Linked DNA regions of Homo sapiens. The protein of the gene in region 1 interacts with the protein of each later gene in a pairwise test. Each region holds a gene or a part of one and is shown on either strand. Other genes may lie near its edges.

Evidence for each region.
Region 2: the proteins of UPK1B (region 1) and SIT1 interact in binary tests that used the Homo sapiens proteins (3 or more experiments, as listed by UniProt).
Region 3: the proteins of UPK1B (region 1) and EDAR interact in binary tests that used the Homo sapiens proteins (3 or more experiments, as listed by UniProt).
Region 4: the proteins of UPK1B (region 1) and ISLR2 interact in binary tests that used the Homo sapiens proteins (3 or more experiments, as listed by UniProt).

The regions. Positions count from the first base shown.
Region 1 is NC_000003.12:119,175,888-119,184,135, reverse strand, and holds part of UPK1B (uroplakin-1b), read right to left. Parts: intron 1-8,248. UniProt on the Homo sapiens protein: Component of the asymmetric unit membrane (AUM); a highly specialized biomembrane elaborated by terminally differentiated urothelial cells.
Region 2 is NC_000009.12:35,648,795-35,656,535, forward strand, and holds SIT1 (signaling threshold-regulating transmembrane adapter 1 precursor), read right to left. Parts: upstream 2,138-7,741; 5' UTR 2,060-2,137; coding exon 1,960-2,059; intron 1,844-1,959; coding exon 1,708-1,843; intron 1,622-1,707; coding exon 1,563-1,621; intron 1,452-1,562; coding exon 1,390-1,451; intron 1,288-1,389; coding exon 1,054-1,287; 3' UTR 501-1,053; downstream 1-500. UniProt on the Homo sapiens protein: Negatively regulates TCR (T-cell antigen receptor)-mediated signaling in T-cells. Involved in positive selection of T-cells.
Region 3 is NC_000002.12:108,908,302-108,916,549, forward strand, and holds part of EDAR (tumor necrosis factor receptor superfamily member EDAR precursor), read right to left. Parts: intron 4,464-8,248; coding exon 4,377-4,463; intron 2,772-4,376; coding exon 2,646-2,771; coding exon of another isoform or gene 2,550-2,645; coding exon 2,475-2,549; intron 2,232-2,474; coding exon 2,159-2,231; intron 1-2,158. UniProt on the Homo sapiens protein: Receptor for EDA isoform A1, but not for EDA isoform A2. Mediates the activation of NF-kappa-B and JNK. May promote caspase-independent cell death.
Region 4 is NC_000015.10:74,132,703-74,137,667, reverse strand, and holds the end of ISLR2 (immunoglobulin superfamily containing leucine-rich repeat protein 2 precursor), read right to left. Parts: intron 4,922-4,965; 5' UTR 4,914-4,921; coding exon 2,676-4,913; 3' UTR 866-2,675; downstream 1-865. UniProt on the Homo sapiens protein: Required for axon extension during neural development.

The DNA.
Region 1 (8,248 bases):
AGTGGGAGAAAAGAAGGAAGGTAGAAACTTGCTCTGAGCAAAAAGAAAAGCATAAATTGAAGAAACCTAGGCAAGGACATGACAGAAATGCCAGGGAGGCAGCCCAGCTGTGGGTTGGTTATTGGAAGGTGGTGATATGTCAGTGGGCAAGATATTCTGAATTTTCTGGCCACTAAAATGTTCTCCTTTTTCACTATGCATTCTCTTCTTCTCCCTTAGGCCTTTGGTATCAATGGCACATGATAATTTAGCTACTCCTGTCTTCCAAGATAAGGAAATAGTGATGAAAACTGCCATTTATTGGGCACTTACAATGCTCTGGGCACTATGTTAGGCATTTGATATTCATCTTCTCAACAGACCTGAGAGATGGGTTTTTCAGGTCTGCATTTCCTATTGCTGCTGAAACAAATTACCACGAACTTCGTGGCTTAAAATAACAGAAATGTATCTTACAGTTCTGGAGGGCAGAGGTCTAAAATGAGTCTCACCAGGCTAAAATCAGGGCTATGTTGCTTCTGAAGGATCTAGGGGGAGAAGCTGTTGTCTTGCCATTGTTTGTATAAAGAAAAGGGGCCGGGCATGGTGGTTCACGCCTGTAATCCCAGCACTTTGGGAGGCTGAGGTGGGCAGATCACCTGAGGTGAGGAGTTCGAGACCAGCCTGGCCAACATGGCAAAACCCCGTCTCTACTAAAAATACAAAAATTAGCCGAGCATGGTGGCGGGTGCCTGTAATCCCAGCTACTTGGGAGGCTGAGTCAGGAGAATCGCTTGAACCTGGGAGGTGGAGGTTGTGGTGAGCCATGATTGGGCCACTGCACTGGGCAACAGAGCAAAACTCCATCTCCAAAAAAAAAAAAAACAAAAAAAAAGGGAAGCTTGGAGAGATTAATTTGCCCAAGGCCACATTGCTAGAAAGTGCAGAAGCTGAGACTGAAACACAGGTCTGCCTGGCGCCAGATCATTTGCTAAACACTCTACAGTTTATAAAGTCTTGCTACATAGCAAATGCTTTCAGTAGAAATAGAAACACCTGGAGTGGAGAGAACAGACACATTTCCCTGCTCAGGAGACTCTACCTTTGCAAAGGTCAGAAACACTAGGCTTTTCTTCACTTACATCTCCAGCTTCTTGTCTCTTTAGCCCCTGGACACGATGCTCATATTTGCATATTTCCCCCAAACTCAGTGCTGTACCCACATGCTTTTCCAGAAAACCTGTCTGGATGTATCAAAAATCTACAGCTCATCCACCTACCCCCAAGACCAGAATTCTTAGAAGTAAAATGTGCAATGTGCAAGTCAATGAGAGGTTAGCATTTCATAGCTTCTACTTGGCCACTTGTATTTTAGACTAGGTTGGTGTCCAGAGGACCTAAAACATTTGCTGCATCCCCCAAATGGCCACAGATGTCAAGAGGGAGCCAAGTGTAGGCTTCCAGTGGCTCACAGCATAGTCTAATATCTGTAGTATAATGGTGACCACACTGGACTTGGCATCAGAATGCCAGAGTTCAAGTCCCAGCTTTGTGCTGTCATTATCATTACTGTGTAAAGTTGGACAATGTTTTCCTTAGTATCTACTTCCTCGTTTATAAAATTAGTAGACAATAACTTGTTAGATGGAGTTGCTGTGATCACTAAATGAGATAAAAGATACAAAAGTAATAGGTAAGCACTAAGATTGTTTACACATATAAGAAACTATTAATTATAACCAGAGGATATTTAGGAAGGGCAGGGTATTGGGTTATGATTTTGTTTTATATATCAGTGACCCCAGGGGGATAGAAGGGAGGTTTTAACAGTGACTGGTCTCACAGCCAAGGGCTCTTAGATTGAGGAGAAGCAGCCTTCCTTCCACCTTCCCTCTGTTCACTGCACAGGGGCTGCTCTGCTCGAGGGACCAGGAGGGCTTACACAAGATACCCATTTGTACTTCTTTTTATTTTCCATAGATGAATTCATGAGAGAAAAGGAAAAACACTTCCTAGTTGTGCTTGGGGTGCGGCCAGAGTCAGGTACCAAGCTGCACATCCACATGGGAGGGGCCCGCCTTGCATGCCATTAGCATTCCTGAACAGTTAACACTCGCCATTGGGCCTCATCCCTCTGCCTTTGGCCAGCTCTAAGGCCTCTGCCCCACACTGCAAGTTGATGCAGAGATGGCCCCTGAGGTTGTCCTTGTCCTGGGGCCACTTTCTCCCTGACACAGACATTACTCAGAGAGTATTCTGCTCTGCTGCCCTTTTGCATTCTTTCCTCCCATTGCCAACCTGTGAAGGGCATCCTGCACTTTATTGCAAGAGTCTCCAAAGTAGGAGGAGGCATTTGGGACCCTGTTTTATTTGTCTTTCTAGGTCCAAAGTGGCATAGTACCTGACATGTAGTAGGCGCACTCAATTGTTTTGCTAAATAAAAAGATAAAGTAAATAAATAATGTTTATTTGAATAAATGAGTGTGCAGATTAATAATTTGCCTAGAACTTTGTTGAAGAGCAAGTTAGAGAATATGGTGAAGTGGAACGAATGTGGGCTTTGGATAGACCTGGGTTTGAATCTTAGCTCTACCACTTACTAGTTTTGTGACCCCAAGAAGTTACTTAATCTTCTCGAGCTTTATCTTCAAATGAGTATAGTAATACTTAACTTCAAGGGTTACTATGAAAATTAAATGAGAATATATGTGAAGTTTTAATACAATATTAGTTACCCAATACTAATTTTGCTTATTTTTGTCTTATAAAGGAGACAGACTAGAGCTAATAGCCCAGTGGTTGGTGAAGGTACCTAAAACCAGTGGTTTATTATTATTATTTTTTTGATACAGAGCAACATTTTCAAAGGAAATAGGGAAATATGATTTCAGTAGGGAACTCTAATATATGAAATCAGATCAGAATGGTACTTCTCTGGCTGAAACGAGAGTAGGAATCCTGGGCTCACAGAGCATCTTCTCACCAGCTCTAAACCTCCTAAACACATAGCTAGCCCCAGAACGATTGGAAACTACTATTCTAGAGCTAAAGGAAAAGAAAGAAATAGGCAAATTACTGAGCTCAGAAGACAGTTACCCAAGAAGTAAGAGGACACTCAAAAGTGATGTTGAAAAACTGGTCACAACGTGTAAGCTGACCTTACAAAGTCTGTGTCAAAGACTTCCCCCTGCCCCTCATTCAATGGAAGATGTCTAGAAAAGTCCTGGAAAACTGAGACAAGTGAGTTTACTTTTATAATACATTAGCTGGATGGATCTTTAGGAAGAGCTGCTTTCCTGGCACACTTAGAGGAAAGGTGACATAATTTCTACAAAAGGAAAAGATCAGGCCTGGCTGATGTTTAGGGTTCTTTGAAGATTAATAAATGCCTGTGCATAGGGGTAGAGTAATGCACTTTTTTTTAGGTTAAAAAAGAAAAGCTTTGACACAGTTCCACACTAATGGATATTTAAAAAAAAAAAAAGACATTATGAATTTGTTGACCTTTCCATAGAGGATAGGCACGGAGAAAGAACAAAAGGGAAGGACAAATGGTGACTTCTCTATACACAGAATATAAACTGTGGTGTTCTCTAGGGCTTGGTAGTAGTTTTGCCTTTGTTAATAGCTTCTTGAGTTTTGTCTCTGCCTGCCTGATAAAGAAGTATTGTAATGAACACCTTGCGCTGGTTAATTTTGTATGTCAACTTGGCTGGGATATGGTGTTTGGTCAGTATCAGTCTAGATATTGCTGGGATATGGTGGGATTGGCTTGGATATGGTGTTTGGTCAGATATCAGTCTAGATATTGCTGTGAAGATATTCTTTAGATGTGATTAACGTTTAAATCAGTAGACTTTGAGTAAAGCAGTAAAGCAGATTACCCTCCATAACGTGGCTGGCCTCCTCCAATCAGCCGAAAACCTTAAGAGCAAAAACTGATGTTTCCTGAAGAAGCAGCATTTCTGCCCTAAGAGGACTGTAACAGAGAAACTCTTAAGTTTTCAGTATGCAGATTTTAGGTTTAAGTCTGCAACATCAGGCCAAGCGCGGTGGCTCACGCCTGTAATCCCAGCACTTTGGGATGCTGAGGTGGGCAGATCACCTGAGGTTGGTAGATCACCTGAGGTTGGTAGTTCGAGACCAGCCTGACCAACACGGAGAAACCTCGTCTCTACTAAAAATACAAAATTAGCTGGGGGTGGTGGCGCATGCCTGTAATCCCAGCTACTCAGGAGGCTGAGGCGGGAGAATCGCTTGAACGGGAGAGGCGGAGTTTGCCATGAGCCGAGATTGCGCCATTGCACTCGTCTCAAAAAAAAAAAAAAAAAAAAAAAAAAAAAAAAAAAAAGCCGGGCGTGGTGGCTCACGCCTGTAATCCCCGCACTCTGGGAGGCCGAGGCGGGTGGATCACGAGGTCAGGAGATGGAGACCATCCTGGCTAACACGGTGAAACCCCGACTCTACCAAAAATACAAAGTTAGCCGGGCGTGGTGGCAGGCGCCTGTAGTCCCAGCCACTTGGGAGGCTGAGGCAGGAGAATGGCGTGAACCCGGGAGGCCGAGCTTGCAGTGAGCCAAGATCAGGCCACTGAACTCCAGCCTGGGCGACAGAGCGAGACTCCGTCTCAAAAAAAAAAAAAAAAAAAAGACTGCAACATCAACTCTTCCCCAAATTTTCAGGTTGCCCACCTGCTGTATAGATTTCGGACTTGTCAGCCCCCACAATCACATCACATAGGTTAATTCCTTAGAATTAATATATATATATATATATATATATATATATATATATATATATATATCTCCCTCTCTCTCTCTCCCTCTCTCTCTCTCAACAGGGTCTTTGTGTGTCACCCAGGGAGTGCAGTGGCACAATCATATCTCACTGCAGCCTTGACTTCCTAGGCTCAAGTGATCCTCCTGCTTCAGCCTCCCAAGTAGCTAGGACCACAGGTGCATGCACAATGTCTGGCTAATTTTTAAATTTTTTGTAGAGAAGGGGTTTCATCATGTTGCCCAGGCTGGTCTTGAACTCCTGTCCTCAAGACTTGGCCTTCCAAAGTGTGGAGATTATAGGCGTGAGCCACCATACGTTGCCTCTCTCTCTCTTTATGTATCTCCTTTTGGTTCTATCTCTGAAAGAACCTTGAGTAACACACCATCCCAATTGGGATTGATGTATATTTTTGATAGAAGCACATATGATCATTTTCTGATGTCTCCTGATACCATTTTACCAATTCCCACTGCCAGCCCCTAACTTCTGGATCAGATGAATTAAACATTTTCTGTTTCCATTCCATACAGTGCTTCCATGGTGAACTTTCTCAAGCAGAGGTTCTCAAATGATCCTCCAAAACACAGATGTTCCATTTACTGGGACAACATGTTTTGATGCCAATATTGAATGATTCCAGTCATTTCCTAATTTGAGGAAAAATTACTATAAAAATTTGTGATTTTAAACATTTTCCTCTTACACATTTTTCTTAAATTGTGGATGCTACTACCACCTGTCTATGCTAAAATCTAGTTTTTGGTATGAATTTAGGCCAAAATGATCTACTTACTTATTTTAAATTTAGTAGACCAAAATTTTCTGGTATTCTACAAAGATAAACATGGCTTCCAAGTGCCAGCCACTTAGCCAATCTTGAGATCCACTGTCCTAAAACACAGCTCTGAATTTATATCTCCCCCCTGCTTAGAACCCTTCAAAGGTTCCCTGTAGCCTAAATTCAAAGGAGAGCCCTCGGTCATTCCCTCTGCACTTACAAGCCCAGCCACCAGCTCCTACTTACTTCCTATTGCCAGGTTCATCACTTGTCCCCCCACTCTCTGTTGCTGACCAGTTTCTTTGAATCCAGATTTGCTCCTGTTCCCTTCTGAAAGACCAGTCTATAGTATTTGGCCAGACCCAACTATTATATTTTCCATTCAGCCAGTGGAGGAGTGGTTGGACCACCTAAGAGATAAAGTACAAACTCCTCAGTGTGTATTCAAGGCAGCACCCATCCAGGTTCTAAATGGCCTGCCTGCCATTTTTCACTGCGTGCCCCACCCCCCCAACCCTTTGGTGTCCTGGTCATGCCACCATGCTGTGCTTAGGGTGTCCCTGTCTTTGGAATCCCTTCTCCCATTTCTGCCTATCGAACTCTTTACCACCTTCCGAAGCCCAGCTGAAAAACCTCTTCTCTCCTCAACTTCTCTTACCCAGAATTATCCTTCCTTCCCTATATCCCTCTCTCTGCCTATAGCAAATAGCTCTCCAGGGAAGCTGAAACCATTGTGGATATGTGTTTATGGCTTTTCTTCCATACTAGCCTCTGCCACAGCAATATAGTCTGGTACGTTGTTACGTCTTTTCTTCACCCAAGTTTGTTTAATAAGATATTCTGAAGCCACAAAAATTGGATTGCTGTGCATCAAAAAAGCCAATTTAACAAATAATTGCATTAAAAAGCAAAATTATAAACTTTTAAATTAATTGACGGGTGTCACACTTAGAAGTCAATGACTACACTTTTGGTAGTTTTTGTTTGTCTTAGAAGATATGTAATTTGAGAGACATTAAAGTGTCATTCATCCTAGGACAGTTATTGGCCAGGTGCCTGTTCACGGCATGATACATCAGTTCTGGCTGCAAACTTGGAGGCTTTGTACAGGTGAGAAATTTAAGGCTCACAGAGAGAAAGTGACTTGTTCACGATCATGATGTGTTATTAAAAGAGTTAAGATTCAAGTCCAGGTTTCCTAACTCTTAACCCAGCCTTCTATGGGGTTTGTCACTAATGATTATTCTTTTTAAGGTAGGGAGATCCACTTCCCTTTACGTCTTTTTAAATTAAGAGAAACTCTTGACCTCCCACCTGTGAGCCTACCCATGAGACTCACTACAAGATAAGCCAGAAAGGGAGCCACATAAACAAAGCTGGCAGGGAGAAAGCCTTCTATCCTTTTCCTTCATTCAAAGGCTTCCTCACCGTTTACCCTAACTTCTGAATGCCACAATTTGAGACTCACTCCTTCATTCCTGATTAAAATGCAAGCTCATATAAAAGAGGCACATTGAGTTTCATGAGCCATCCATGTCAATGCCTCATTTATCAGCTCCCTTCTCTTATTTAATTTTCAAAGGGCGAGGGAAGACACCATGAGAAGGAAAGAGACCCAAGGAGAGGGTAGAACCTAAAAAGACAAACCTCGTAACTTATGATTTGGGGGTTTGGGTCTGTCTCTCTGGCTATACTGACTTCTAATGATATGATGTGTCCTCTTTCCTGCCTTCTCTTTTAGCCCACAGTATGTAGAAACTGTTTTAGATATGTGGTCTTCTGAACCCTCCCCACGTTATTCTAAAACAATGCCTCCCTGACTATATTGGATTACTTATCTGGCAGGGGTGGGAAGGAAACCAATGGGATGAGTTACATTTAACAAGTGGAAAGCGGTGGAAGGCAGAGGGCAGAGCAGCAACTGCCCGCGTTAGAGATGGAACGCCCCAGACTGAAAGTACGCAACTCACCTCGAAATATTTTCCATGTAAAGGAATAGCCCCTGTGCACCCCGCCCTGTGGGAAAACTGCCCTGTGGCCTGGTATGATGATGATTTACTCAAATTGCTCAATACCCTGGGAGTTCCTTTGCTTTAAAGAGTGCAGATTTTTTTAAAGCTAGAATTATATTTCTTGTTTTTTCTTTATTGTGCTTTCACTCAGTTTGTTTTCCTATAAAAATTAATCATACCCGTAGTGTTGATGTTTCCAGACACATTGAAAGGTCTAAAAACAATTGCTCACTAAACAAACCAATTTGCAAAGCAGAAGAAAAAGAAGTGAGACTCGCCCAGTAAGCATGAGATCATTTTTTCAAGTTCATTACCTCTTTTCCTCACCCAAGTTTGTTGTACCAGAGAACACACAAACCACACCTCAAACTTTAGTTCATGCTAGAGAAATTTGAATTAACAAAGGAGAAAAAAAGAAAAGGAAAAATAGGAGAGGAAGAAACAAAGAAACACAATATGCGATTGCCTTAGCCCTCACCCTGAAACTCAGCACAAGAACAGACACTTCCTTGGCTCAGAGTAAAGATGGGTGTGGAGATTGTAGGTCACAACAATTGCTGGTCTGCTTCAACTTAAGGTAGGATAAGTCCCTGGAAATAACAAAAAGAGGAGGTTTCTCCCAGGGCTGTCACCCATGGCTCACAGTGCCCATAAGTTTTTCTTGCTTTAAAGCTCTAAACCTGTGTTGACTAATACAGTA
Region 2 (7,741 bases), on another chromosome or scaffold:
CAGAGTGGGAGAGAGTGAGTGGAGATGGACCGCTGCCATAGTGATGGGGTAAGGAGAAGGCCTCTAGGGGTATACGATGACTAAGTGCAGATAAGGCTACTGATGTCAAAACAGGGGTATAGGTGGGACTCATAGCGGACAGACGGAGGTCAGATTGGAGGACTTGATGAAGGAACCAGGCTGGCAGGTTGTGGAGGTGATGGCAGTTATAGAGGTCAAGGGGAGAGTAGCTCAGGACTGTGAGCTTGCAGCCCCAGGGGGAATGCAGTGGCTCTGAGTGCAGATCCCAGGGGTGTTCTAGCAGCAGCAACAGCAGCTGAGGAGCTGGGCTCTGGCCCTCCACCCCGGTGCCCACCTCTGCACTGTTGATGCCGCAGCCCCTCTTGGCCCCTCATCCCCAGCTAGGCACCCCCAGAAAGAGCTCCGTGCAGACAGCAAAGCTCACACCCCCATCTGCAGGGCCCTTTGCAAGTCTTCAGCCTTCTAGGTAAAAATCTAAACACTTTTTGGAAAGTTTTATTTGAAAACTTGGGGACAGGACAGAGACAGCAGGATGGAGACTGTATTCTCCTGCTAGGGTTCTTAGGTCAAAAGCCAGGCTCGGGTCCCTCCCGTCTCTAAGTTCCAGGTCCACTCCAGTCTGTGGACTCCTGAGGAATATACCCACCCACCCACTGTCAGGCCCTTACCCCTCCCCCACCGCCCACTTCCTGTGCCTGAGGAGACACTGAGGCGTGGGGGTAGACTATGAGGGAGCGGGGGTGGGGAGGATCTGGTTAAACTCCAGAAGAAGGAAGTGAGAACCTGGGAGTTTGGGGGCTAAGAGGAACAGATAGAAAAAAGAAATAAGGAGGGGGCTACTGTCTTTGCCTCCTCCATCACGAAAGCTTTGCCCTGAGATGTCTCCCTTGAAGCTCAGATAGGAAGTCCGGGGTAGATCACATCCTGTGACTTGGCAATGGCGCCCGTCTTTGGGTGCTGGTTGGGAAACAGTCATGCCCCTGCTACGGGGGGCTGGGGCAGTGCACGCCCCGCTGTGCCAGGCCCTCCATCTCAGCTGGCTGCAGGCTGGCTGTTGGCATAGGCCTGATCCGGGAAGGAGGCCCGGGCCCTGCGGGTCTGGGCACATACTGAGGCATAGAGCTCCGGCTCGGGGCCCGAGGCCTGGGACTTTGGCTCAGAGTCCAGCACCACCTCCGAGTACTTGACGGGGGTTCCAGGACCGGGGATCCGACCCTGAGGAGGCCGCAGCTGCAGGCTGGTATAGCACATCACCTCCTCTGCAGCCTGGAGATGCAAGGCTGTTAGAAGTTCACTGGACCCTCGGAAAAGCCCGAAAAGCCCCCCACTTCCTTCCCTCCCCCTTTTCTCCAGCCACAGTTGACTCACCCTGGCAGGGCCTCCAAGAGTTGGATCCTGCTGGTCTGGCTCTGGGTCTTGAGACAGCCGTCCTGGGACGGGGAACAGGAATCTGGTCAGCAACTTGTCCTTCCTCCTGCACGCCCCCATCCCAGCCACCCAGGACCTGGCCTCTGTGCCCCTCCTCTCTGCCAGCTCCCTACCTGTCTGTAGATAATGCAGGTTCCCATACAGCGGGACCTCTTCCACAGACTCTCCAGAGCTGCAACGCAGAGTTTAGGGGATGAGTGGGGACTTCTCGGTAAGAGAGAACTCTCAGTCAACCCATCCCTGTTGTCCTTCACCCACCGTCCCTGCCCCGGATGGCTCCTGCTCCGGCCCCTGGTCCACTGGGACAAGTGTGCAGCCAGCGAGATGAGAAATAGCAGCGTCACAGCCCCTAAGAGGACCCACAGTCCCCAGGCCTGGGTTATGGAGGGGATTCCTGTGGATGTGAAAGGAAGGGGGGTGTAACAGCCCCGCCCCACCCCCAGGGCCCAGCAGGTGGGACCTGGGGCCACATGACCCCTCCCCCACCAGCCCCTGCCCTGCCCAGCTCACCCAGTGCGAGTAGATCCGTGCAGTTGTCGCCTCTGCTCATGGCTGCAGATGTGAGAGTCCACAAGCACACTGCTCTGAGCCGAGGGTCAGCCTGGTTCATGGCCTGACGGTTTCCACAGCACTTCTTACTCCCATCCCTCCTCAGGCCCGTACCCCGCAGCTCAGCATCCCCAATACTGGTGGTGGCAAAGTCTCTGGTTTCCGGGGAGGAAGGGGGAGGGGAGGGATGAAAAAAAGAACAAAGACCCCGCCCTGTGCCTGCACCTGCGCCACTCCTGCAGCTCCTGAGCTTCCCCCACCCTCGCTGCCCAGGCCCTTTGCCCCCCTTGAGAAGAGAAGCAGGCCTGTGGGTAATGTGCCACGGGCAGTTGAGTCCCTGAGGACTCTGAGGGCGGGGGGTGGGGGCAGAAGTGGTGTGAAGCAGGACTAACAAGGACAGGAACACCCCTTCTGCTCCAGGATGCCCACCTTCCTCCCTGACTCTGGTCCCAGAAGAAAGATGTATTCCTCAATGAGTATGGTATAAAGTGGAAGGGTCGGGGGAGCCTCCTGGTACCTCTGATCCCATCACACCCTAAGGCTGATCTGAGAGGATATGTGTTTAGATGATGCTTGTTATTGTTTCATTGGGGGCATTATAATTTGGGGGACACCCCCAAACCTCCCCTTTCAACCCACTTCATCCAAACTGTCTGTAAGAACTGTCACTCTCAATAATTAATTGCATTTTAAAACTCTTTGCTGTAGGACTGTCCTGGGAAACTGAGCCCTATCTTGCACATGTTCACTTCAGCGGGTGTAGTACCTGCCATACCTAGAGCTAACTCCATCACGTGCAAGGCTATTGATGTAGGAAGAGGGATTTTAAGTTGCAAATATAAACCTGAGACCAGAAGTCAGAGATGTGTTTTGTCTAGCCCATACAACATTTTTTAAAAGTTTAAAATCAGTGCAGTGGCATGCCAACAATAGGGATGGCAGAAGTCCTGCCCCTTGAGTTGCAGGCAATAAGGGGGTGCATTGTCTGTAGAGAATTTAAAAAATAAAAATCAGTCCTCTTATTATCACCATGTTCCAGAAATTCTGAAAAAAAAAATCAGTGATAAAATTATCCTCCCTGAAAAATATTTTATGGATCTAAGTTTTATATTTTTTTTGAGACAGGGTCTTACTTTGTCTCCCAGGTTGGAGTGCAGTAACACAATCTCAGCTCACTGCAGCCTTGACGATCTCCCGGGCTCAAGTGATCCTCCCATCTCAGCCACCTAAGCAGCTAGGACTACAGGCATGTGCCACCACACCCAGCTAATCTAGTTCATTTTTTGTAGAGATAGGTCTCCCTGTGTTGCCAGGCTGGTCTCAACTCCTGACCTCAAGCAACCTGCCCACCTCGGTCTCCCAAAGTGCTGGAATTACAGGCATGAGCCACTGCGCCCAGCCCAGATCTAACTTTTAAATTGCTGTAGTGGACCAGGTGCAGTGGCTCATTCCTGTAATACCAGCACTTTGGAGGCCAAGGCAGCAGGAGGATTGCTTGAGGCCAGGAGTTCAAAACCAGTCTGAGCAATATAGTGAGACCCTCCATCTCTACCAAAAAACAAACAAAAACAGTAGACAGGCCTGATGACACAAGCGTGTAGTCCTAGCTACTTGGGAGACTGAGGTGGGAGGATCACTTGAGCCCAGGAGTTGGAGGCTGCAGGGAGCTATGATTATGCCACTGCACTCCAGCCTGGGCGACAGACGGAGAGACCCTGTCTCTACAGTAGATGCACAAATACCATTGTCTTACAACTGCCTACAGTATTCAGTATGGTAACATGCTGTAAGCATTGGGGCCTAGGAGCACCAGGCTATACCATGTAGCCTAGATGGGTAATAGGCTACACCATCTAGGTTTGTGAAAATACACTCTATGATGTTTGCACAATGACAAAATTGCCTAGTGACTCATTTCTCAGAACATATCCCTGTTGTTAAGCAATGCATGGCTGTTTTTATGCTGACATGATTATATTTACAAAGTTCAAGGAAAGAAAATATTCACTGAGTTTATTTCTTGGCCCTTATTATTCATTTTATAATTGCCATTGAGAATAATTTTGTCATATAAAGAATGTTTAAATTTGTTTTAATTTTATTTATTTATTTATCTGAGATGGAGTCTCCCTCTGTCGCTCAGACCAGACCGCAGTGGCACAATCTCGGCTCACTTGCCCAGGCTGGAGAGAAGTGGCGTGCCTGGCCATAAAGCATTTTTTTAAATGATCCACTTGAAAAATAAAACTTTGTTCCAGGCATGGTGGCTCATGCCTGCAATTCCAGCACGTTGGGAGGGTGAGGCAAGAGGATCGCTTGAGCCCAGGAGTTCAAGAACAGCTTGGGCAACATGGCAAAACCCCGTCTTTACCAAAAATACAAAAAATTAGCCAGGTGTGATGGTGCACGCCTGTGGTCCCAGCTACTCGAGAGGCTGAGGTGGGAGGATTGCTTGAGCCTAGGAGGTAGAGGTTTCAGTGAGCCAAGATCAAGCCTCTGCACTCCAGCCTGGGCAACAGAGTGAGACCCTGCCCCCCACCCCCAAAAAAAGAAAGAAAACAAGAAAAATTTGGGTCTGGGCATGGTGGCTCACGCCTGTAATCCCAGCACTTTGGGATGCTGAGGTGGGTGGATCACCTGAGGTCAGGAGTTTGAGAGCAGCCTGGTCAACATGGTGAAACCTCGTCTCTACTAAAAATACAAAAATTAGCCGGGCATGGTGGCAGGTACCTGTAATCCCAGCTACTCTGGAGGCTGAGGCACAAGAATTGCTTAAACCCAGGAGGTGGAGGCTGCAGTGAGCCAAGATCACTCCACTGCACTGCAGCCTGGGCGACAGAGCAAGACTCCATCTCAAAAAAAAAAAAAAAAAGAAAGAAAGAAAAATTTGGGCCAGGTGTGATGGCTCACACCTGTAATCACAGCACTTTGAGAGGCTGAGGTGGGAGGATAGCTTGGGCCCAAGAGTTTGAGACCAGCCTAACCAACATAGTGAGATTCCCATCTCTGCAAAAAATTAAAAAATTAGCGAGGCATGGGGGCATGTGTGCCTGTAGTCACAGCTACTTAAGAGGCTGAAGTGGGAAGATTGCTTGAGCCTGGGAGATAGAGGCAGCAGTAAGCCATGATTGTGCCACTGCACCACTCCAGCCTGGGCAACAGAGTGAGAGCTTGTCTCAAAAAAAAAAAAAAAAAAAGACAGAAAAGAAAGAAAAATGTTTTTTAAATGATCCGGAACAGGCAAGGTGGCTCACACTTGTAATCCCAGTACTTTGGGAGGCTGAGGCAGGCAGATTCCTTGAGGCCAGAAGTTCAAGACCAGCCTGGGCAATACCCTGGTCTCTACAAAAAACAAACAAACAAACAAACAAAAAACAACAACAAAAAAACACACAAATTAGCTGGGCATGGTGGTGTGCACCTGCAGTCCCAGGTACTCAGGAGGCTGATCCAAGAAATTTGGGGCTGCAGTGAGCCATGGTCTCACCACTGCACTCCTGACTGGGCAGCAGAGGGAGACCCTGTCTCTCTCTCTCTCTCTCACACACACACACACACACACACACACACACACACACACACAAAGACCACTTGGTGTCAAATATGCTAAGTATGCCACTGATTCCTTGTCAACAGTTAAAAATTGGGAGATTTCAAATTTTTAAAATTCTAATTTGTTGATTCCTTCAAAAAAAGATCTGGCAATAGTGCCCTGAGTTCTCTAAAGGCAATAATCAGTTGGGGACCACTTATCATTATTATATCTGGCCTGAACCCCTTATTTACACCGACTGTGCCAACTGGCTTAGATTCAAGATTTCTATTACCCTGCTTTGCGTACCCAGGCTGTCACTGGGTCATCAGCTAGACCACTGGTCCCCAGCCGTTTTGGCACCAGGGACAGGTTTTGTGGGAGACAATTTTTCCATGCACAGGAGTATGGGAGGAGGGGATGGTTTTGGGATAAAACTGTTCCACCTCAGATCATCAGGTATTGTGGTTTTTTTGTTCTGTTTTGTTTTTTTGACAGGGTCTCGCTCTGTCACCCAGGCTGGAGTGCAGTGGTGCAATCTTGGCTCACTGCAACCTCGCCTCCTGGGTTCAAGCAATTCTTATGCCTCAGCCTCCCAAGTAGCTAGGATTACAGGCATGCGCCACCATGCGCAGCTAATTTTTGTATTTTTATTAGAGACTTTTTTTTTTTTTTAACCATATTGTCCAGGCTGGTCTTGAACTCCTGGCCTCAAGAGATCCACCCACCTTGGCTTCCCAAAGTGCTGGGATTACAGGCATCAGCCACTGCACCTGGCCTAGATTTTCATAAGGAGCCCACAACATCACGTGCATGCACAATTCACAATAGGGTTCGTGGCCCTATGAGAATCTAACACTGCACTGATCTGACAGGAGACAGAGCTCAGGCGGTAATGCCAGGATGGAGAGTGGCTGTATATACAGATGAAGCTTCCCTCGCTACTCCGCCGCTCACCCTTGCTCCTCCGCTGCTCACCTCCTGCTGTGCGGCCCAGTTCCTAACAGGCCATGGACCAATAGTGTTGGGGACCCTTGAACTACACTATGATAACTCCCCTTGGTGAGGGTTTCTCCCTGTCCTGCCCTTCCTCCTCCTTTCAGGAAAAACAAGAAGACACACCCATATTTCATTTATTTATTTATTTATTTATTTATTTATTTATTTATTTAGAGATGGAGTCTTGCTCTGACACTGAGGCTGGAGTGCAGTGGCGCGATCTCTGTTCACTGCAACCTCCGCCTCCCAGGTTGAAGCTATTCTTATGCCTCGGCCTCCTGAATAGCTGGGATTACAGGTGCTGGCCACCACACCTGGTTAATTTTTGTTTTTGTTTTGTTTTTCTGAGGCGGTGTCTCACTCGTTTGCCCAGGCTGGAGTGCAGTGGCACGATTTCGGCTTACTGCAACCTCCACCTCCCAGGTTCCCGTGATTCTCCTGTCTCAGCCTCCCAAATAGCTGGGACTGCAGGCGCCCGCCACCACACCCGGCTAATTTTTCTATTTTTAATAGAGACGAGATTTAGCCATGTTGGCCAGGCTGGTCTCAAACTCTTGACCTCAGGTGATCCTCCTGCCTCGGCCTCCCAAAGTGCTGGGATTAGAGGCATAAGCCACCGATCTTGGCTTCATTCATTTATTTAACACACATGATGTACTGATTGCCTGTTTGTATGCCAGGCTCTGGAGATAAAAATGTGATGAATGGAAATGGTTTCATGTCAGGGAGCTCTTGATCTAACTAGACAGATGACCCAGTGTATCCCAATTAAGAGACCATGGAAGGCTCTGTGGAACAGAAGGAATACCTGCCTGCCTGGTGAAGTCATGGAAGACAAGGATGGGGAAAGGCTGTTCGACAGAAGGTATAGAGACAGGCAAAAAACTGGTGAAATCACCACCCTGCCTCTTACCTGATTAGTAGCATACTTAACCTTGCTGAATTGCAGTTGCCTCATTCTTTGAAAGAGCTTAACTATATTACCCTTTTGGGTCATTTTAACCATTCATTAATTTCATTCAACAACGATTCATTGAGTGCCTGCTATCGCCAGGCGCCACGTGCTGTGCTAGGCTCTGGGAGTAAAATGGTAAAGAAAAAAGAGAGGTGGCTCCTGCCCTTGTGGAATTTAGGACCAGCCTAGCTCAAGGGTCTCCAACACCCGGCCACAGGCCAGCACCAGCCTGTGGCCTGTTAGGCTCCGGGCCACAT
Region 3 (8,248 bases), on another chromosome or scaffold:
GGCCTCTCCTTCCCTGCTACCTGACACACAATGGATGCTCCGTGAAGGTTCATTGAATATGTCCTAGATCTCTGTATTTAATCCCAGTAAGCACCAAGTTCAACTGGTGTCTTCATGTTAAGCAAACAGATTGATGCAGCTGGCGCTGAATCCATGCTGGCTCTCTGGAGTCATTGAAAAGGGAGCTGAATGGAGCCTTGTGCCTGGAAAGCCCCCTCTTGACTAGGGGGGTGACCTGGCTGACCTGTGTGCATTGCAGGGGGTGGCACAGCAAGCCCCAGCGGGTGAGCTGGGTGGGCGGTCGGACCCACCAAGCCCAGGTTCATGCCGCCCTGTGGCTCACAGCCCACAAAGAACCCAGGGTCTGCCCTAGGCACATGTGGGTTGGAGCTTAAACTCTCTTAAAACCATTCCAAGTATATGAAAAACAATATTCTTTTTTAGAGGCATCCTGCTTGCTTCCTGTGGTTTGGCTGAAGACCTTTTTTTCTTAAAAAAAGGATTATATTTGTTAGTAACTAGGTTACAGCAGTGAAGCCCATATGCAAACACAACCCTAGAGACAGGGTAATACAAAGACAATGAGAACCATCATGAAGCCCCAGTGGGACCCACTTCCTCATCAGGCTTCAGGGCCTCACAAGGAGGTGGTAGGACCCATCCCTGTCCCCACTCGAGAGAAGGTGAGGTGGAGCAGGTGAGGTGGCACCCCAGGTCCTGTCTCTGAGACCTAAGGACAAACAGCAGGGACAAAAGCTCAGTGCCTTGCTGTCTTTTAACGTACAAGTGTCAGGGTTCAATTTGTATTTAATATTCGTGTATGAAAGCAGTATATATTTTTTCCTAATAGGGCCTCCAAATTTTCCCTGTCTTCAACTGCAACTCAAGTCATGGGGCACGTCTCTGCCTTTTTGATTTCTGGGAATAAGAAAAGCCTGAATATCAGAAGGGAGAGGCTGAGACAGAATGAGATAAGGCTGGGCTGGAGGCTGAGGAGCAAATTCAGTCTCTAGGGAGGCCCTATTTAAGAGTTCCATGCAGGGTGACCAGGTCCTGCCCTTGGTCCTGGGAGCAGCAGCTTGGATCTGGCACACAGGATCTCCACACAGATGCTGGATCGATTGGAATGGCTTTGCAAGGTGAATCATAGGAAGATCATGGGGTGGGGGCAGGAGAGGAGGGCTTAACCTCTGCTCTTCCTGTAACCAGTTTGGTGACCTTCTGGTGGCCTCTGTGCCCCATCTGCCAAGGGAGGCACTGTTGCGGGGGTGTCCTTCCAGGCGCAGCCTGCAGTGGCTGTCGGGCAGAGGCCTGGCAGGGGGGTCCGAGCACATTGCCTGGCTGGGAGCTGATGCTGTGGGGTTGATTTTTGGAAGCTACGCAGGACCAAGTCCAAATGACCATCCCACTGGATGAATAAAATATTGACTTCCCTCTACCCTCGATTTTAGAGCAGGGGCTGGTTCCACACCTTCATGTGTGGTAAACGCGGGAAAGGCTTCACCTGCCAAATCTCCTCCTCCAGAGGCCTCTTTACACCATGTGGCTCCTTGGGAGCCTGGACTCGGACCCCAGCCCTGCTGTTCACTAGTGTGTGACCTTGGGCGAGTGACAACTTCCATACCTCAGTGTGGTATCCTATAAACAGGGATGATACAAGCACCTTGCTCCTGGGCTGTGGAGGGAGGATGTGTTCACAGCCCTAGCCCAGCACTTGGTGGGCAGTAGGCACCAAATGCTGTTAGCCGTCATCACCACGGTTGTTACCAGCATTACGGTGGCAGCAGTACTGGCACCGGCACGGGTGGTACTGGTGTGTTGGCCGCAACAGGCATGCATCCTTGGCTTTATGTTCTGCCCTCCCAGTCTGGAGAAGGGGCATGAGGAATTCGGATGTTAAGGAGGAAGGCCCAGGGAATTTGGCAGGATGCAGGGACAGGGGCCTGACCCGAGAGCAGCAGGCAGCTGTTTCCACAGGCTCCTCACACCACCTGACCCCTGCCAGTCAGCAAAGAGGTGGTGGGGACTGTCTGTCGCCGAACGTCCCCATAGTGTCCCAGGCTAGCCTGTCAGTTCACTCGGCTGCACCCTGGTTCCCCTCCCTGCTCAGGATCCACAGGACCCCAGCTTCAGCTTGGTGCTGGGGGCTTCCACATACCTCTTGGTGGGCTTTGCTGGAGTTGCTGTCAGCTTCTCAAATTCATCCTTCTCGGAGAACATCACCACGTTGTCTGCAGGGAAATGGGGAGGTTGGGGAGATAGGAGTTAGAATTGGCTCATGGCTCTGCGCTCAGCCCAACCCTGCTCTTCCTGTTGGGCAGAGCTGCCCGGTGTCTGTGTGGCACCACCCCACGGTAAGCACAGTATGGTTCAGCATGTGAGAGCAGAAGCAGCGAGGAGGCTGCTTCTGGGAACGCCCTCCACCCAGAGATGGGCACCGTGCACATGGTGTGTGGAAGCCCTGGTTCACAGACCTGGGGCCTCTTTCTTCTCCTCGTCCTTGCTCACTTGGGCCTCCACGCTCTTCCCCGGGTGGCTGGTGCAACAGGCTGGGGAGAGAGGAGGGAGTGAGCAGCCAGGCTCTCCGACAGGGGGAGTTGACGGAGAGTCCAGGAAGCAGGGCACCGGCGCATGGGGGCCGTCACCTGGGGCAGAGGGCTTTGTCTTCAGGATGTAGAACATGATGATGAGGACGATGGCGATGGCCATGATGAAGATGGTGGACATTGCAATGATCAGGGCAGTGGCCAGGTGTCCTTGGCCTGAGAGTTCTGTGGGTGGAGAGAAGGCATGAATGACCCAGAGCTCAGGATCCCTGCTGGTCTTCCCTCCAGGACTCCGGCCCCTGGAAGCAATGGCCCTGCCCCTGGGATGCTTTCAGGGAACCCTGAAATCTGAGGTGCTTGCTTAGACTGAGAACCAAATCCTCCGCGCTGGTTTTGGCTGCCAGACCAGGACTGCCCACAGCCCTGCTCGCTGCCCTCAGACTGGCCTCTCCAGACTTCTCTGGGGTCACCTGATTGTTCCTAGGGAGTTTGCTCTTGCTTCTACTGCTTTGGCAACCTGAGGGCAGGGTTTGGTGTGGAGAGGAAGAAAGGCCAGTGAACAAGAGTGGCTGGAAGGCAGCACAATTCAAGTTTGGGCATTTCCAAACAAAAGTCAGGATGCGAAAGTCAGCTCTGGATTCCAGGTTTGGCTCCATCTTGCACCTCATGCAATTTCAACCTAAGTGTCATTGTAAGAGCCCCAGGGCACAGGGGGTGCCTCGGCTGGGCCACCTATTCCACCTGCACTGCCGCCTCCACCAGGCAGTCCCTCAGTCACCCCGGGGGATTTTGCTCAGTTCCCAGGTTAATGTCGACCCTGGATGCATAAAATGCCCTGAAGCTCATTCTCATTCTCTAAAATAACCAAACAGGACTCTGATTGTCTTGAACTAAGATCCAGATTTGCCACCACCCAAATAGACAGGAGACCAGCATCTGAAGCTCCCAAATCATCTCGGGGGAGGTAGTGCCAGAGCTGAGAACCCCGCATGTGGGCGCTGAGCCTCCCCTGTGGGTGCATCTGCAGGAAAACCAGCCTCCCAGCATCATCTGGGGAATACCTGTAATAGCGTTAGCATGCCAGGTCTGGATGACATAAGTGTTTTAATATTCTCCGTGTTTTGAGCTACTCCCCCCGGGGCCTGTGCAAATGAGATTCATATATCCTCGCCCAGCAGTCCTGCCTTTTGCTCTGCGTTAGCGCGTGGGAGGCCCAGAGATGAAGCTGACGAGCTGGGTGCTCTGAGGGCTCTGGAGGGTACCTCACGGCTCGCTGAGACCTGGGCCCGAAACATGCTTCAATAATGGGCTGGCACTAAACCAGTGAGAGAGAAAGGCCAAGCCAGCTGGAGGGCTGACTCTGAGAGACATATTAAACTTTGGGGTCCTCCTCAATCCCTTCTTCCCTGGTTAGGGAGAATGAAATGTACATTCTGCAAGTTAATATTAAAGTGCTATGGTCAGCATGTTTATATGAAAACCAGTGATAGAATTGCTGTTAACTCCCGGCCAAACCAAAGCCCAGGACGCCTGGTCTCTCCTCCTGGCCGGGCTTGCAGCTGCCTGTGCTGTCCACCTGCCGCTATGCCCCCGCCTTCACCACCAGCACCTCCCAGCGGTCCCAGGACACCCATAGAGGGATCAACTCTGATTGCAGATATAATGACTTCCTGCACGGGGGGCAACATGTCATTCAATTACATTAGGGAGGTGAGGCCAGGTGGGGAAGCGCACCATAATCATCACTCATGATCATTTCCTCTCCTCTTCTGAGCTTTCATCCGAGTACCACCTAACTCCAGGTGATCGATACCTGAGCACCCTCCTCACCTTTGTGGGCGTGCTGGAAGGGAGACAGGGTGCTGCTGCCCGAGGTGCCAGGGAAGTTGGCAGAAGCTCCTGAAGTGGCTCCCACACCTGCAAGGAAAATAGAGTCCCTCAAATGATCCAGAGAAGCTCCACCTTCAAAGACGCTGCCACAGAGCTCATGGATCTGGATTCATGATCATGAATGGGCCTGAGGCAGTGATGGCTGAGGGGAGCTAAATATTTGTATTTCTTAGACTGTTTAATGAACCCTAAAGAGTCATCGTTATTGTTCTTTTTTTTTTTTTTTGGTGAGACGGAGTCTTGCTCTGTTGCCCAGGCTACAGTGCAGTGGCGTGATCTCGGCTCACTGCAAGCTCTGCCTCCCTGGTTGACGCCATTCTCCTGTCTCAGCCTCCCAAGTAACTGGGACTACAGGCACCCACCACCACACCTGGCTAATTTTTTTGTATTTTTAGTAGAGACGGGGTTTCACCATGTTAGCCAGGATGGGCTCGATCTCCTGACCTTGTGATCTGCCCGCCTCGGCCTCCCAAAGTGCTGGGATTACAGGCATGAGCCACCGCGCCCGGCTGGTTATTGTTCTTTAAATGAAAACACTCATGTGATAAGTCTGCTAAAACTAAACAGTGTGGGTTGGGGAGTTTTGCAAGCCTCACCAACTCAATTTTCCTATGCGTGGAGACAAAGTATATGAAATCCATAAAAATAAGCAACATAGAGTGTGTACATGAAAGTACTATTAGGGTGATACAATACTTGACTAATTCCTTCAATTACATAGAGTAGGAATGTGTTAATACTTTTTCCAGTCATAAAAGTAATATATGCTCACTATTAAAAATCTGGAAAAGGGGGCCAGGCATGGTGGCTCACGCCTGTAATCCCAGCACTTTGGGATTGTTGTTCAGCATCAGTTTGAAATAATAGCTTCTTGATTTATACATATAAATATTGTTGTGGGAAGGAGGCTGGTGATAAAAGTGTATGCGATAGCTATCTTTACGTAGTATGGGTATGAGTTCTTCTTGTTAGAAGGACAAGAGGTGGCGGATCACGAGGTCAGGAGATCAAGATCATCCTGGCTAACACAGGGAAACCCCGTCTCTACTAAAAATACAAAAAATTAGCCGGGCGTGGTGGCAGGCGCCTGTAGTCCCAGCTACTCGGGAGGCTGAGGCAGGAGAATGGCGTGAACCCAGGAGGCGGAGCTTGCAGTGAGCTGAGATTGCGCCACTGCACTCCAGCCTGGGTGACACAGTGCGATTCCGTCTCAAAAAAAAAAAAAAAAAATCTAGAAAAGGGGCCGGGCGCGGTAGCTCATGCCTATAATCCCAGCACTTTGGGAGGCCAAGGTGGGTGGATCACTTGAGGTCAGGAGTTCAAGACTAGCCTGGCCAACCTGGTGAAACCGCATCTCTACTGAATACAAAAAATTAGCCAGGCATGATGGCGCATGCCTGTAATCCCAGCTACTTAGGAGGCTGAGGTAGGAGAATCGCTTGAACCCGGGAGGTGGAGGTTGCAGTGAGCCGAGATCACACCACTGCACTCTAGCCTGGGCAACAAACGTGAAACTTTGTCTCAAAAAAAAATAAAATAAAAATAAAATAAAAATAAAAATCTGGAAAAATAAGAACACAAGAAAGGAGGAAAAGAACTACCCATGGCCTCCTTGGCTAAGTGGACTTTTGCTGTATTTCTGCCTAGGATTTTTCCTCAGACATGTTTTTACATGGTTGTGACCAAAGAGTTTCAGAGCAAGGTGTGCTTTGCCTTCCCTTAAAGCTATGCTTCCCACAACTCCCCTTCTATGGAAAAAGTGTGACTTAGCGGGGATAAAATGGAAGCTGATTTTGCTCTCAGTCAAATCACTAAGACGCAACCATTCAGCCAAAACAAAAACATTCCACCACAGAAGAGACCACGTCCTGTTCCAGACCTCCTAAAAGAAGATCAACCTTCTTTTGGGCCAGACTTCAGTTTTGCAAATAATAAAGCCAACATGCTTCAAATGCATCTCCCACTCTCTCACTTTTGTCTCTACCAGTTCTGGAGAAATCCGTGAAGTGCACTTGGTCTACAGAAAAGCAGCCCCTGAGTCAAGGACAAGGCCAGCTGCCATCCCCAAATCAAGGTACCTCCCCAGCCTGGCCCAGCCCAGTGGAATGGCCCAGCACTGTGCCTGGTCAGCCCATGCAGCAAGGCTTCCGGGAGAAGCAAGCTTCCTAGTTGGACTGTTTTTCTGTTTTGTTTGAGACAAGGTCTCACTCTGTCACCCAGGCTGGAGTGCAGTGGCACGATCTTGGCTCACTGCAACCTCTGCCTCCTGGGCTCAAGTGATCCTCCCACCTCAGCCTCCTGAGATGCTGGGAGTACAGGTGTGTGCCACCACACCTACTTTTTGTATTTTTTATAGAGAAAAATGCACGTTGGCCAGGCTGGTCTTGAACTCCTGACCTCAAGTGATCCACCTGCCTTGGCCTCCCAAAGTGCTGGGATTACAGGTGTGAGCCTGTAATCCATGCCTGGGCTGGCTGTTTTCTTTAGTAGGAAGTTCTCAGGAGAAACGCACACTCTTGTTCTGTGAGTGGGGGCAGCCCAGGAGCTAGTGACCAGCTGAGCTATCCACTCGTGTCTGCTCTAAATGGAGCAGGGCCACAGGAGAATGGGCTGGATGCTTCTCTGTCCTCACACCTTGTAAAGCAAATTGGAAGCTTGGCCAATGAAACATTGGGCTTGGGAGGGACCAGGGCAGCTATGTCATAGGGTATGTAAGAAACATCACCTGTCCACTGAGGGGCAAATGATGTTTCCTTGTGTTTCTGGATGATGAATGGAGGCTTTTTTCCTCGTGGGCCTCAAACTTATGATAAATCTTTGCTTTCTTAATTTAGCCTCTTACTTGGCCTCAGAACCAGTGTTCTTATTAGGGAAAGAGCTGCCCAGGCACGGTGGCTCATGCCTATAATCCCAGCACTTTGGGAGGCCGAGGCGGGAGGATCACCTAAGAGGAGTTTGAGACCACCCTGGCCAACATGGTGAAACCCCAACTCTACTAAAAGTACAAAAATTAGCTGGGCCTGGTGGCAGGTGCCTGTAATCCCAGCTACTGGGGAGGCTGAGGCAAGAGAATCGCTGGAACCCGGGAGGCGGAGGTTGCAGTGAGTCGAGACCACGCCATTGCACTCCATGCTGGGCAACAAGAGCGAAACTCCATCTCAAAAAAAAAATAAAAAATAAATAAAAATAAAAAAAGAGCTGGTGGAGAAGTGCGTGCCCCTAGCTGAAAGCCACAAGCCCATGTCAAACAACAGAGCGTTCCCCCTCACAGACCTTACTGAAGTTGCTCTGGAAGTCTCCAGTGTGATAAGGAGGCTTCAGATTGTGTGCCCATTTCTGTTTGCTGGGGGGTAGCCTCCCACACTTCATCAGGTGAGTGAGCATAGGGGCATCATGGCATAGTTTCCAGCATGACCTAATTTCCTTTATAAGAGCAAACAAGAGATTGAAAAGAAGCTGATCTATCTGTTCAGTAAGGCGCTCAAGGGAGCTTAAGATACACTGTCAGAGCAAAAGAACAGCCGTGGGCTGTCTGTGAATGTTTGTCATCTTCGCCTCTTCTTGTCCCTTCCTGTCGGGGCTCGCAGGCTGCTTCAGGTGACAGGGTTGGGGATGGGGACACAAATATGCCCAGGCCTGTGGTCTAGAGTGGGGCAATAAACGCAGCCTAGAGAGCACACAGACTTGTGGGATGCCTCTGCAGCCCTGCAGGGCTGGTTACACAATGACGTCCCCAAACAATGCCTGCAGATGTGACATCTTCCTGCACCCACAGGCGCCCACCTGCCCTCGGCCAGCTGTGCCTCTATCCT
Region 4 (4,965 bases), on another chromosome or scaffold:
CGCCTCTTCCCATCTTAGGGGGATTCAGCTGAGACACACAGCAGCCCAACCCGTGTGTTTTAGGCTGGCCAGGAGCACAGTCTCCTTTCTTGATCCCCCTGTCTCTCCTGTTCCTCACCCAAGAAAGCCCCTTTCTAGGACTATGAAATCAGTGTGTTTTCAACCCTGATTCCCCAGGTGCACCCCCTTGGCACACCCTGACGGTTGTGCATGCATCATTCACTGAGTGCTCCCCACCCACCCACACAACGCACACACTTGGCTCCCAGGCCAAACGTGCCGGCTCGCTCTGGGCAATCGGCCTGGCCAGGTTCTCCCCCTTTCCTGCTTTACATCATTTGCCCGCTCTGTACTTTGTGTTATTTGTGACTTCTCTTGTGCAAGCCACAGCGGTCTTGTCCCTATGAATCCCATCCTCTTCCCACCGGCTTCTCAGGGAACTCAAAGGCTGATGTGGAGACACAGAAACTGGGCAGTGTGACACCATATACAGCCACACCCCACTACACAGACAGTCTCAAGTGAAAGAGGGTGCCGCACACCCTTGAGTGCAAATATACTTGCACGCACACTCAGACTCCCTGTGTTCAGGGTCTGCAGACACCCGCCTTCCTTTCCTGCAACCTCCCCCTACTCACTTGCAGCCTGCCCTCGTTTTTTGTCACCCCACCCTGGAGTTGGAGACACTAAGAGCAGGGCTGGGTGCAAACACCTGGCAAAAAAATCACAGGATGGTCACGCAAACAGGAAATCACTCAAAAGATTCCAACGGGAGGCTCTGGGGGGGCTCCTTCCTTCCGCGGTTTCCTCCTTCATCGCCCAGGCCTCCTCCCTCTGTCCCCTGACAAAAAGTCACCGAGCCCAGTTCAAATCGATTGTTTTATTGACTGCATACAGACGCGTTTAGAAAAGGGCACGGGCTCCGGGGGGCTACTCCGTCCCAGGCCCGCGCTTGTGCTGCGCTTCGCGGAGAGGGCTGATCCCGAGGACTGAAACTCCCCCCACCCCAACCCCGACGCTTTCTTTCAAAATGGAAAAAAGAACCCCGCCCCGAGTCGCCGCGCCGCGCCCCTCCCCTTCCCTCCCTCCCCGCCCATCCGCCCCCCCGCCCGCCCCCCTACACTACACGGTCACACTTCACAGGACACAGACTTTTCTCCTACAGGGCACGCTTGTCAGGGACTACACGCCGGGCAAACACGATTCCCGCCGAAGCAGGGGCGGGTGGGGCGGGGCGACGCGAGGACCGAGACGCGAGGACGGAGGGGCTCGGCTCCATCCGGATCCCGTCGCACAGTCGCACAGTCACGAGCAGGCTTTGTGCGAACTAGGGCGCGAGCCCTCCAGAGAGCCGCGGCCCGGGAGGCCACAGTCAGCTTCCTCCGCCTCCGGCGCTTTCCAGCTAGGGTCTGGGTCGGGTGGAGCCGCGGGAGCGGCGCTGTTGGGCGCACAGACCTCCGGAAAGCCCAACACACGGACAACGAAATTGGCCCGCGACCAAGTCCACAGGCTCAGCCGCCAAGGGGCGCGCGGTCCTGCGGCGCTTTAAGTTAGGAGAGAGACGACAGAAAACGCATTCCCTCCCTACCCCCCGACACACACACTCGATTTTCCCAGAGGCTGGGAAGGGGGTGTTAGCACCAGACCCGAAATGTCGCTGTCTTTGAAAACAACGAAAACAGGAAAATCTGAGCGCGGAGCTGAAAGGCGCCCCAGGCACCGGGCTGGACTCCAACTGGCCAGAAGTGGGGTGGGGGTGGGAGGACAGAAGGATTTGGTTCCCTGCCGGCAGGAGGCTTTGGAACTAAAAACTAGGGGTTGCCACGAATCCCGGCTTCTGGGAGTAGGGATTGAAAGGGAGGAGGGGCCGGGCGCGGTGCCTCACGCCTGTAATCCCAGCACTTTGAGAGGCCGAGGCAGATGGATCACCTGAGGTCAAGAGATCCAGACCATCCTGGCCAACATGGTGAAACCCCGTCTCTACTAAAAATAGAAGAAATTAGCTGGTCGTGGTGGCGCGCGCCTGTAGTCCCAGCTACTAGGCAGGCTGAGGCAGGAGAATCGCTTGAACCCGGGAGGCGGAAGATGCAGTGAGCCGAGATCGCGCCACTGCACTCCAGCCTGGCGACAGACCAAGACTCCGTCAAAAAATAAATAAATAAATAAATAAAATTAAAAAATAAAAAAAAAGGAAAGAAAGAAAGGGAGGAGGAGGGGTCGAGGTGGGACCCCACAGCACTCCACTGGCCTTGGCTGGCCCCCGAAACCACCGCGTTACCGCGAGGTTTCCAAAGTCTTCGCTCGTTTCCTCTGGCTCCAGAGCCCACGGTGGGGCGGGCTGCGGGGTGGATTTCGCAGATAATCGCGACGGGAATGGAGGGACATAGATATCGCCCACCGTCTGCGGGTGGAGTCTTGCATGGGGTAAGATAAACACTGTGCTTGGCGGGGAAGGGGATTCAGCCCGCAGGGAGAATGGCAGCCGTGGGTAGCAGGGACTGGTGAAATCGGCCCACTCCCTAATAGAAGTCCCTGGTAGTCAAGGTTGGGGAGTAGTAAGGGGGAGGAGTAGGTGAAGGTTGGGGACGGGGGACATAAGTCCTGCCAGCCCTAGACTGCTGCTCCCAGGCACCCTAGGTGGAGGTCGGGAATGGGCGGGCCGGACGGGCGGAGGTTCAGCCTGCCGTCTGCCTGTAGTTGCCATTAATCTCCTGGGCGATGTTGACCGCCTCGGCGCCCAGGGGCAGCCGATCGCTGTACTCAGAGCCCGCCTCGAACTCCTCTTGGTTGGCCTTGGACTGGGACTCCACCAGTGAGCAGGCCGCCAGGCTCTCCTCTCTCTGCAGGTCCCCACTTGGGTCTCCCTGCTCCGCGTCTTCATCAAGGCCCTCCCCCTGCACGTCCTCTGGCTCCTCGCCGCCCGCCTCGCCGCCTGCCGGGTAGCTTTTCTCGGACTCGAGGTACGAAGCACGCGGGTCGAAGTCTGCGGCGATGCGCTTCTCCATAGGGTCAGGGGCCTGAGGCCGCAGGATCAGACGGTAGGGCTTGCCCGGGTGTTTAGCCAGCAGATGGCAGCAGGCGGCGCCCAGAAGGGGCACTGTGGCCAGCACCAGGAGGAATACGCTCACTGCCACTATGACCAGCAGCGATGGGAGCTCCTTCTTGGTGGAAAACACCACTTGCACGTGGCAGGCTTCGCCCGCCAGCGCCAGGCACACGGAGTAGTTGGTACCCGGCCGCAGGCCGCGGAACCAGTAGGCGTTGACGCCTTCCTCTACGCGGGACCACTGCACTGCCGCGCCGCCCCCCGCTGGACACAGATAGAGTAGGCGCAGGGGTCGCCGCCCGGGTCGCGGGGCTCCGCCAGCCCCGCCGGGCCCAGGGCCCCAGCGCGCAGCCAGCGGAGTCAGCTGCACCCGCGCCTCGCGCTCCGCCACATCCAGCGCGATGACGCCCAGCTCGAAGACGTGCGGCTTGAGCTCTGCGCTCTGGTTGAACGCGTGGTTAGAAACGTACCGAGAGGGGTCCCCGTTGCCACAGCGCTGCTCCTCCGCCGGGTCCGCGAGGATCTGGTCTTCGGCCTCCTCTCCCTCACTTGTGTCCTCCTCCGGCTCCGTCTCGGTCTCCCCGAGAATGCTGACCTTGGCCAGGCCTTGGCCTTTGATTTTGCCCTCGGGTTTGGAAGGCAGGACGCTGTTGCCCCGGCCCTTGGCTGTGGACTTGCGCTCAGAGGTCGGGGCCTGTCCGTCGGGTTCTCCCCCGGCGCCAGGCGCGTGTTTTGGGGGCCCGGTTGCTGCCACCGCCACGCGTATTGACGTAGAGTTGGCGCCCAGCTCATTGTGTGCACGGCAAGTGTAGACGCCCGCCTCCTTGGCACTCAGGAGGGGCACCAACAGGGAGCCATTTGCGAGGGCCAGGAAGCGCGGTGTGGCTGGGGGCGCCGGCCAAGCGGGTGCTGGAGTCGGCGTTTGGGCTTGGGTCTGCGTCAGCAAATCCCCATCTCCTTCTCCCTCTCCTTCCTCCGCCCCAACCCCGTCGTCCTCCCCGCTCAGAACCGGTGGCTCTAAGACTACGGTGCCACCGGGGATCTGAAGTTGCCATTGCAGGCGAGGCGTAGGGTGGCCGTCGGCGATGCAGTGTAACACGAACGCCAGTCCTGCGCGCAGTGGGGTGCCGGGTGCTTCAAGCGGTGGCTCGGCACTCAGATGCACGCTGGGCGGTGCACAGGGCAGGGCGGGCAGGCGGTACACCGGCACCCCCTGCAGCGCGGGAGGCGAGGCACAAGCAATGGAGTCGGGCTCGGGTAAGGACACCCGGGTGCTCGCGGCCCAGGCCTGCAGCCACACAAGGCCGCAGCCGCAGTGGAAGGGATTGTGATAGAGTTGCAAGTGTGACAGCGCGCTAAGCGCGTCGAAGGTGCCAGGCGCCAGCGTACGCAGCCGGTTGTTGTTGATGCGCAGGGAACGCAGGTCGGGTAGCGCACCGAGTGCGTCCCGGGGCAGAGAGCCCAGGCGGTTGTGGTTCATTTTGAGCAGCTGCAGCGCGCTCAGGTTGCGCAGGTCGCTCCACGGAAAGCTGGATATGAAGTTGTGGCTCAGATCGAGGTTCTTGAGCTGACTCAGCACGGCCAGTGCGCCTGGCTCCACGGTGCGCACCTCATTGTGCGCCAGCCACAGCGACGTGACCTGTGTGACGTCGGCGAAGGCCCCGCGCCGCAGCACAGTGATCTTGTTCGCGGACAGACTAAGCGTCGTCACGTTGGCAGGCAGTCCTTCCGGCACCTCACGCAACTCTTTGTAAGCGCAGTCCGCGAACTGGTGAGCGTACTTGTCCACGCAGGCGCACGGCTCCGGGCATGATCCGGCCACTCCTAGAAGCGCCCAGACCAACCACAGGGCCCGAAGGGGGAACATCGCGGCTCCTGCAGATGGAAGCCAGGTGAAGAAGAAAGAAGGTGACTCACTG